Linked DNA regions of Homo sapiens. The protein of the gene in region 1 purifies or fractionates together with the protein of each later gene. This does not show direct contact. Each region holds a gene or a part of one and is shown on either strand. Other genes may lie near its edges. The genes, in order: KLK4 and SERPINA1.

Evidence for each region.
Region 2: the proteins of KLK4 (region 1) and SERPINA1 purify together in Homo sapiens (affinity purification with mass spectrometry; one large-scale study listed by BioGRID and IntAct). This does not show direct contact.

Annotation. Positions count from the first base shown.
Region 1 is NC_000019.10:50,905,577-50,908,639, forward strand, and holds the end of KLK4 (kallikrein-4 isoform 1 preproprotein), read right to left. Parts: coding exon 3,003-3,063; intron 2,920-3,002; coding exon 2,783-2,919; intron 1,511-2,782; coding exon 1,358-1,510; 3' UTR 775-1,357; downstream 1-774. UniProt on the Homo sapiens protein: Has a major role in enamel formation. Required during the maturation stage of tooth development for clearance of enamel proteins and normal structural patterning of the crystalline matrix.
Region 2 is NC_000014.9:94,378,603-94,382,102, forward strand, and holds part of SERPINA1 (alpha-1-antitrypsin precursor), read right to left. Parts: intron 2,540-3,500; coding exon 2,269-2,539; intron 1,010-2,268; coding exon 862-1,009; intron 39-861; coding exon 1-38.

The DNA.
Region 1 (3,063 bases):
AAATACCTAGGAGTAGAATTGCTAGCCGTCATGTGGATGTATGCCTGTCTTTCTAAGAATCTGCCAAGCTGTTTTCCAAAATGGTTGTAGCATTTTACCCCCTACCCCCAGCAATGTAGGAGAGTTACAGCTGCTGTAGATATAACCAAGACTTGATGCTGTTATTCTTTTCAATTTTAGCCATTCTGGTAGCTGTATGTCTTTTGAAATGATTCTATATTTTTCAGATACTGGGTGCAACATTCCATATATGACCATTAAATAGAGTATGTTAATCATACTGTTCAAATTATCTATATACTTATTCAGTCTCCCATCTCCTTGCCCCTCAGTTGCCCCATTGTGCCCCTCAAACTTCCCTCTTTCTACTCCTTGGTCTCTGTTGCTGTCACTCACAGTAGCCCTCGCCACAATTCTCCCCACTAGACTCTAGCTGCAGCAGCCAACTTCTGAGACACATGCAAATTAAAAATTCTTGAAATGCAGTTAAGAAGACAAAAATGAATATAGATCAACTAAAGCTGAATAGTTAAACTAAGCAAGAAAATCTCTACGGTTACCATTTGCTGACCTGACTTTTCAGAAACTGGACAACATCCATGGCACTGGTTTCTCTTAACTATCCAGGGAATGGCCCCTCCCTCTGAAACTCTGTGGCCCTCCTGGTCAAAGCTCGCATTTCCCAGATAGGGAAATGCGACCCATGGAGGGAAAGCCATTTGCTGGAATCTCTTGAATGGAAGGGGAAGCAAGGAGGACACTACAAACAGAACCTGCGCTTCTCTTAGACTTTATTTCTGGATCTAGGGGAAAGGGACAAAAAATGAAAAACCAACTGGTAAGGTTGGGTCAACGTGCCACAAGGGGGCACTGTGTACAGGGAGAGTCTAGGTGGCATTGGACCGCTGGGTCTGAGGGAGGAGGGGCTGGGACCTGGACCTCTGGGTCTGGGGAAGGAGGGGTTGGGGGCCTGGACCTCTGAGTCTGAGGGAGGAGGGGTTGGGGGCCTGGACCCCTGGGTCTGAGGGAGGAGGGGCTGGGGGGTCTGGACTCCTGGGTCTGAGGGAGGAGGGGCTGGACTCCTGGGTCTGAGGGAGGAGGGGCTGGGGGGTCTGGACTCCTGGGTCTGAGGGAGGAGGGGCTGGACTCCTGGGTCTGAGGGAGGAGGGGCTGGGGGGTCTGGACTCCTGGGTCTGAGGGAGGAGGGGCTGGGGATCTGTACCCTTGGTTTGAGGGAGGAGGGGCTGGGGGCCTGGACTCCTGGGCCTGAGGGAGGAGGGGCTGGGAACAGATATTCCTGAATTCCTTCCGCAGGATGTATTTGGGGGTCAATTTCATGGGTTCCCAGTCCCCAGAGTTAACTGGCCTGGACGGTTTTCTCTATCCACTCAGTGAATTTGCAGAGGTTGGTGTAGACACCTGGCACGCCAACTTGGCCACACGGGGCTTTTCCGAAAGACACAAGGCCCTGCAAGTACCCGTTGCAGATCAGGGGCCCCCCAGAGTCACCCTGTTGTGAAGAGAGGGAGAGTCAGAATTCAAAACACAGAGAGGTGGAAATGGATGTGGGCTCAGAAAGGAACTAAATGAGACTGAGAAACAAAGACAGAACCATCATCAATAACAACATAGCCCAGCAACATATCTGTTGGAAGTCCCATTCCAGATCCCTGACTTCATCTAATCCTGCTTCCCGATGTCCTATGTCCTGAATGCTGGCTGCTTCTCTTGGGCTTGTGGTCTGTCTGTTTCTGTTTGTCTGTCTCTCCTTTGTCTCCTTTGTGGCTTGTTTATCTGTCTCAGTGTCTCTGCATCTCTTTGTAAAGTCTTTTTTTTTTTTTTTTTTTTGAGACAGAGTCTTACTCTGTTGCCCCAGCTGGAGTATAGTGGTGTGATCTCAACTCACTTCAACCTCTGCCTCCCATATTCAAGCAATTCTTCTGCCTCAGCCTCCCAAGTAGCTGGGATTACAGGCGCCTGCCACCATATCCAGCTAACTTTTGTATTTTTAGTACAGACAGGATTTCACCATTTTGGCCAGGCTGGTCTTGAACTCCTTACCTCAAGTGATCTGCCTGCCTCGCCTCCCAAAGTGCTGGGATTACAGGCATGAGCCACCCTGCCCAGCCTCTTTGTAGAGTCTTGATTTTTCCTGTTTCTCTTCGTGTTTCACCTCTATGAATCTGTGTCACTGTTTCCCTCTGGGTACACAGTTGACCCTTGAACAACCCTGGTTTGAACTGCACAAGTCCACTTATACTTGGATTTTTTCAATAAACACATTAGAAAAATTTTAGGAGAGTTGCAACAATTTAAAAAAATTCACAGACGAACTGTGTAGCTTAGAAATATCAAAAAATTCCAACAAAGGTATATCATGAATGCATAAAACGTATGCATAAATCGACTATTTATGTTATTGGTAAGGCTCCCCGTCAACAGTAGGCTATTTCTAGTCAGGTTTTTGGGGAGTCAAAAGTTATAAGAGGATTTTCTGTTGGGTGGAGGTCACCGCCCTCAGGCCCCATGCTGTTGGAAGGTCAACTGCATTTCTATGTGTGTGTGTTTCTGCCTCCCCATGTCTGTTTCTGTTTCTCTCTTCCTTTGCTTCTCTTTATTCCTGTGTTTATTTCTCTGTTTCTCTCAGTTTCTCTCTCTAGTTGTCACTGTCTCCCTGTGTGTCTCTCCATCTCTGCATCTCGCCATGCGGCCCTGTGTGTCTCTGTCTCCCCCTTCTCCACCCTTCCCTGAGTCGCCTGCCCTCCCCTTTCCCCTCTCTCACGTTGCAGGAGTCCTTCTGGTCTTGCCCTCCGCCGGCGCAGAACATGCTGGGGTGGTACAGCGGGTCATAGAGCTTACTGCAGACCTCCTCAGACACCACCGACACGTTCACGCACTGCAGCACGGTAGGCATTCTGCCTGGGACGCAGAGCTCTGGGTCAGCCCCCGCGACTGGGCAGAGGACCTCCTTGAAGAGGGCAGACACACACCCGTGAGCTCACCGTTCGCCAGCAGACCCCAGCCAGAAACGAGGCAAGAGTTCCCCGCGGTAGGGCACTGCGA
Region 2 (3,500 bases), on another chromosome or scaffold:
CCTTTCTCGTCGATGGTCAGCACAGCCTTATGCACGGCCTGGAGGGGAGAGAAGCAGAGACACGTTGTAAGGCTGATCCCAGGCCTCGAGCAAGGCTCACGTGGACACCTCCCAGGAAGCGCTCACTCCCCCTGGACGGCCCTGGCCCTGCACATCCTCTCCCTCCCTGTCACATAGGCCTTGCTCCTCCTCAAGGCTTTGGCTGATGGGGCTGGCTCCCCTCTGTCCATCTTCCTGACAAGCGCCTCTCCCCCTGCTCAGGTGCACCCACAACTCAGAACAGGGAAGAGCATCGTCACTCCACGTCTGCCTCCAGGGCTCTCTCCTTTCTAGTACACGGCTTGAAGCTCCTTGAGGACACGGACCCTGGCAGTGACCTTCACAGTGCCCAGACCCCAAGATAATGCAGCCATTCATGGAACTGCAGTTGTTCATTGGTCGCCTTTAGTTTTCCAAAATAAGTGTCATCTTTAGCTGAAATCATTCATTAATTCAGACACCAAATCTCACAGATCGAAGGAGTCAGAAATTCCTTTGAAACAACTTAGCCCAAACCTTTCTGTGTCAGTATGGATAAATCAAGGCCCAATGTCTAGAAGGTCTTGGGCAAAGTTGAAATTCAGGGTCAGTGACACAACCTCAAGGGAGGCCCCGAAAGTGCCAGCTGCACAGCAGTCCCCTGCCTGGCTTTGCTGTTTGACCACGTCCCGTGTCAGTGAATCACGGGCATCTTCAGGAGCTCAGCCTGGGTCTTCATTTGTTTCCCTCGGCCCCTTCCTCAGCCTCAGGACAGAGCTGCAGCCCCCACACATTCTTCCCTACAGATACCAGGGTGCAACAAGGTCGTCAGGGTGATCTCACCTTGGAGAGCTTCAGGGGTGCCTCCTCTGTGACCCCGGAGAGGTCAGCCCCATTGCTGAAGACCTTAGTGATGCCCAGTTGACCCAGGACGCTCTTCAGATCATAGGTTCCAGTAATGGACAGTTTGGGTAAATGTAAGCTGGCAGACCTGTCGTGCAGAAAAGAAATTCAAGGCATGGCACAGCATTCCTCTTGTTCTTCTGGGACCCACCACAGTGCAAGTGTTTTCTTTTCTGATTATTTCTGCCACTTACTCCTGTGTCCTCCACCCACACTAAGATGGGAACTCGGCTTTGGTTTGTTCTACTTTTAGCTCTTCTACATTGAGTCAAAGAATGTTAACATCGAATGAATCACAAAAGCTTGAAATGCCACCTCCTCTGATATTCTAGGTGTCCTGGAAGCCTGTCTCATCTTGCCCTGTAGTGTTGGGTCACCTGGCCCCCAGCCTGTAACATCCCCAGGGCCCTACACCCAGAGAAACACGGGGCTGGTGGCAGTGCCCAGTGACAACCGTTTAGTGGATAAGAGAAGAGTGACCACACCAGGCTGAGTGCTCCTCTCTGGTTTTCCATGGGGAGACAATGCCACCCTGAGCAGGGTCTGGTGTGAGCGGGCAGCTTGGCTCTGGGCTCTCTGATCCGTTACCCTCTCAGCCTCTTTGTTCTTTCTCAACCCCTGGAGCAGAGACCTCAGGAGGTGCTGGCATGGAACAGAGAAATTCCAGCCTCGATTCCTATTATGAACCCGACACCTTTTGTATTTTCATCTTGGTTTTACAGTGTACAAAACGAACTAGATCAGCAGGGCATGGGCATAATCACGAATGCACACACATACACTAATGTGTGGCTCATGTTTAAGTATCACTTACTACAGGACACCCAATCTAACAGCACCGATAAAGTGACAGAGAAACGCAAGCCTTCTGCGAACATGGCCTGGCTGTTCCAATTCCGAACCTTGCTTTTCTGGGCCTTGCCACACAGGCTCTTCCCCCGTCCCCCCAGGGACATTCTACCCTTGAACTCCACACTCCACTGCTGCCTTTGCCAGGAAGCCCATCTGTTCCTTTTTGGTTCTGCCAGAACGTGTGGTGGTGCTGCTGTCCCTGCCCTGGGCACTGGATATTGGGAAGGGACAGTGTCCACACTGGAGTGGGAAGTCCCCAGGGACGAGACCTTTACCTCCTCACCCCTGGGTACTGTCCTCCTCATGGAGCATGGATGGCGCTGCCTGAACTCAGTGGTGGCCTCATTCTGGAAGCCAAGTTTATACAGAGTAGCAGTGACCCAGGGATGTGGGGTTCACCCTCCTCAGCCCTCTGGCCAGTCCTGATGGGCCTCAGTCCCAACATGGCTAAGAGGTGTGGGCAGCTTCTTGGTCACCCTCAGGTTGGGGAATCACCTTCTGTCTTCATTTTCCAGGAACTTGGTGATGATATCGTGGGTGAGTTCATTTTCCAGGTGCTGTAGTTTCCCCTCATCAGGCAGGAAGAAGATGGCGGTGGCATTGCCCAGGTATTTCATCAGCAGCACCCAGCTGGACAGCTTCTTACAGTGCTGGATGTTAAACATGCCTAAACGCTTCATCATAGGCACCTTCACGGTGGTCACCTGGTCCACGTGGAAGTCCTCTTCCTCGGTGTCCTTGACTTCAAAGGGTCTCTCCCATTTGCCTGGAGAGAGGGGAAGGTGGGCATCACCAGGGGTGAGTGAAGGTTTGGAAGAGTGTAGCAGAATAAAGAAACCATGAGTCCCCTCCCTGAGAAGCCCTGAGCCCCCTTGACGACACACATCCCTCGAGGCTCAGCTTCATCATCTGTAAAAGGTGCTGAAACTGACCATCCAAGCTGCCGAAAAAGATTGTGTGGGGATAATTCAAAACTAGAGGAAGATGCAGAATTTCTACATCGTGGCGATGTCAGGCTAAGAGATGCCATCGTGGCTGTGCATTTTTATTGGAATCATATGTTTATTTGAGGGTGTCTTGGATATTACAAATAAAATGTTGGAGCATCAGGCATATTTGGTACCTTCTGTCTAAGGCTCCCTGCCCCTTGTTAATTGGCAGCTCAGTTATTCATCCAGGGCAAACATTCTGCTTACTATTCCTGAGAGCTTTCCTCATCCTCTAGATTGGCAGGGGAAATGCAGATGCCTGAGCAGCCTCCCCTCTGCCATACCAACAGAGCTTCACCATCGAGGCATGCAGAGTGGACAGGGGCCTCAGGGACCCCTGATCCCAGCTTTCTCATTGGACAGAAGGAGGAGACTGGGGCTGGAGAGGGACCTGGGCCCCCACTAAGGCCACAGCAGAGCCAGGACTTTAGCTGTGCTGACTGCAGCCTGGCTGCTCTCCACTGCCCTCCTTTGCCTCAAGAGCAAGGGAGCCTCAGAGTGGAGGAAGCAGCCCCTGGCCTTGCCTCCCACCTCCCCTCCCCTATGCTGTTTTCCTGGGACAGTGGGAGCTGGCTTAGAATGCCCTGGGGCCCCCAGGACCCTGGCATTTTAACCCCTCAGGGGCAGGAAGGCAGCCTGAGATACAGAAGAGTCCATCACCTGCTGTATGCCACACACCATCCCCACAGTCTTTGTCATTTGTTTAATCCTAAAAAAACCTGACAGCAAGAATGGTAT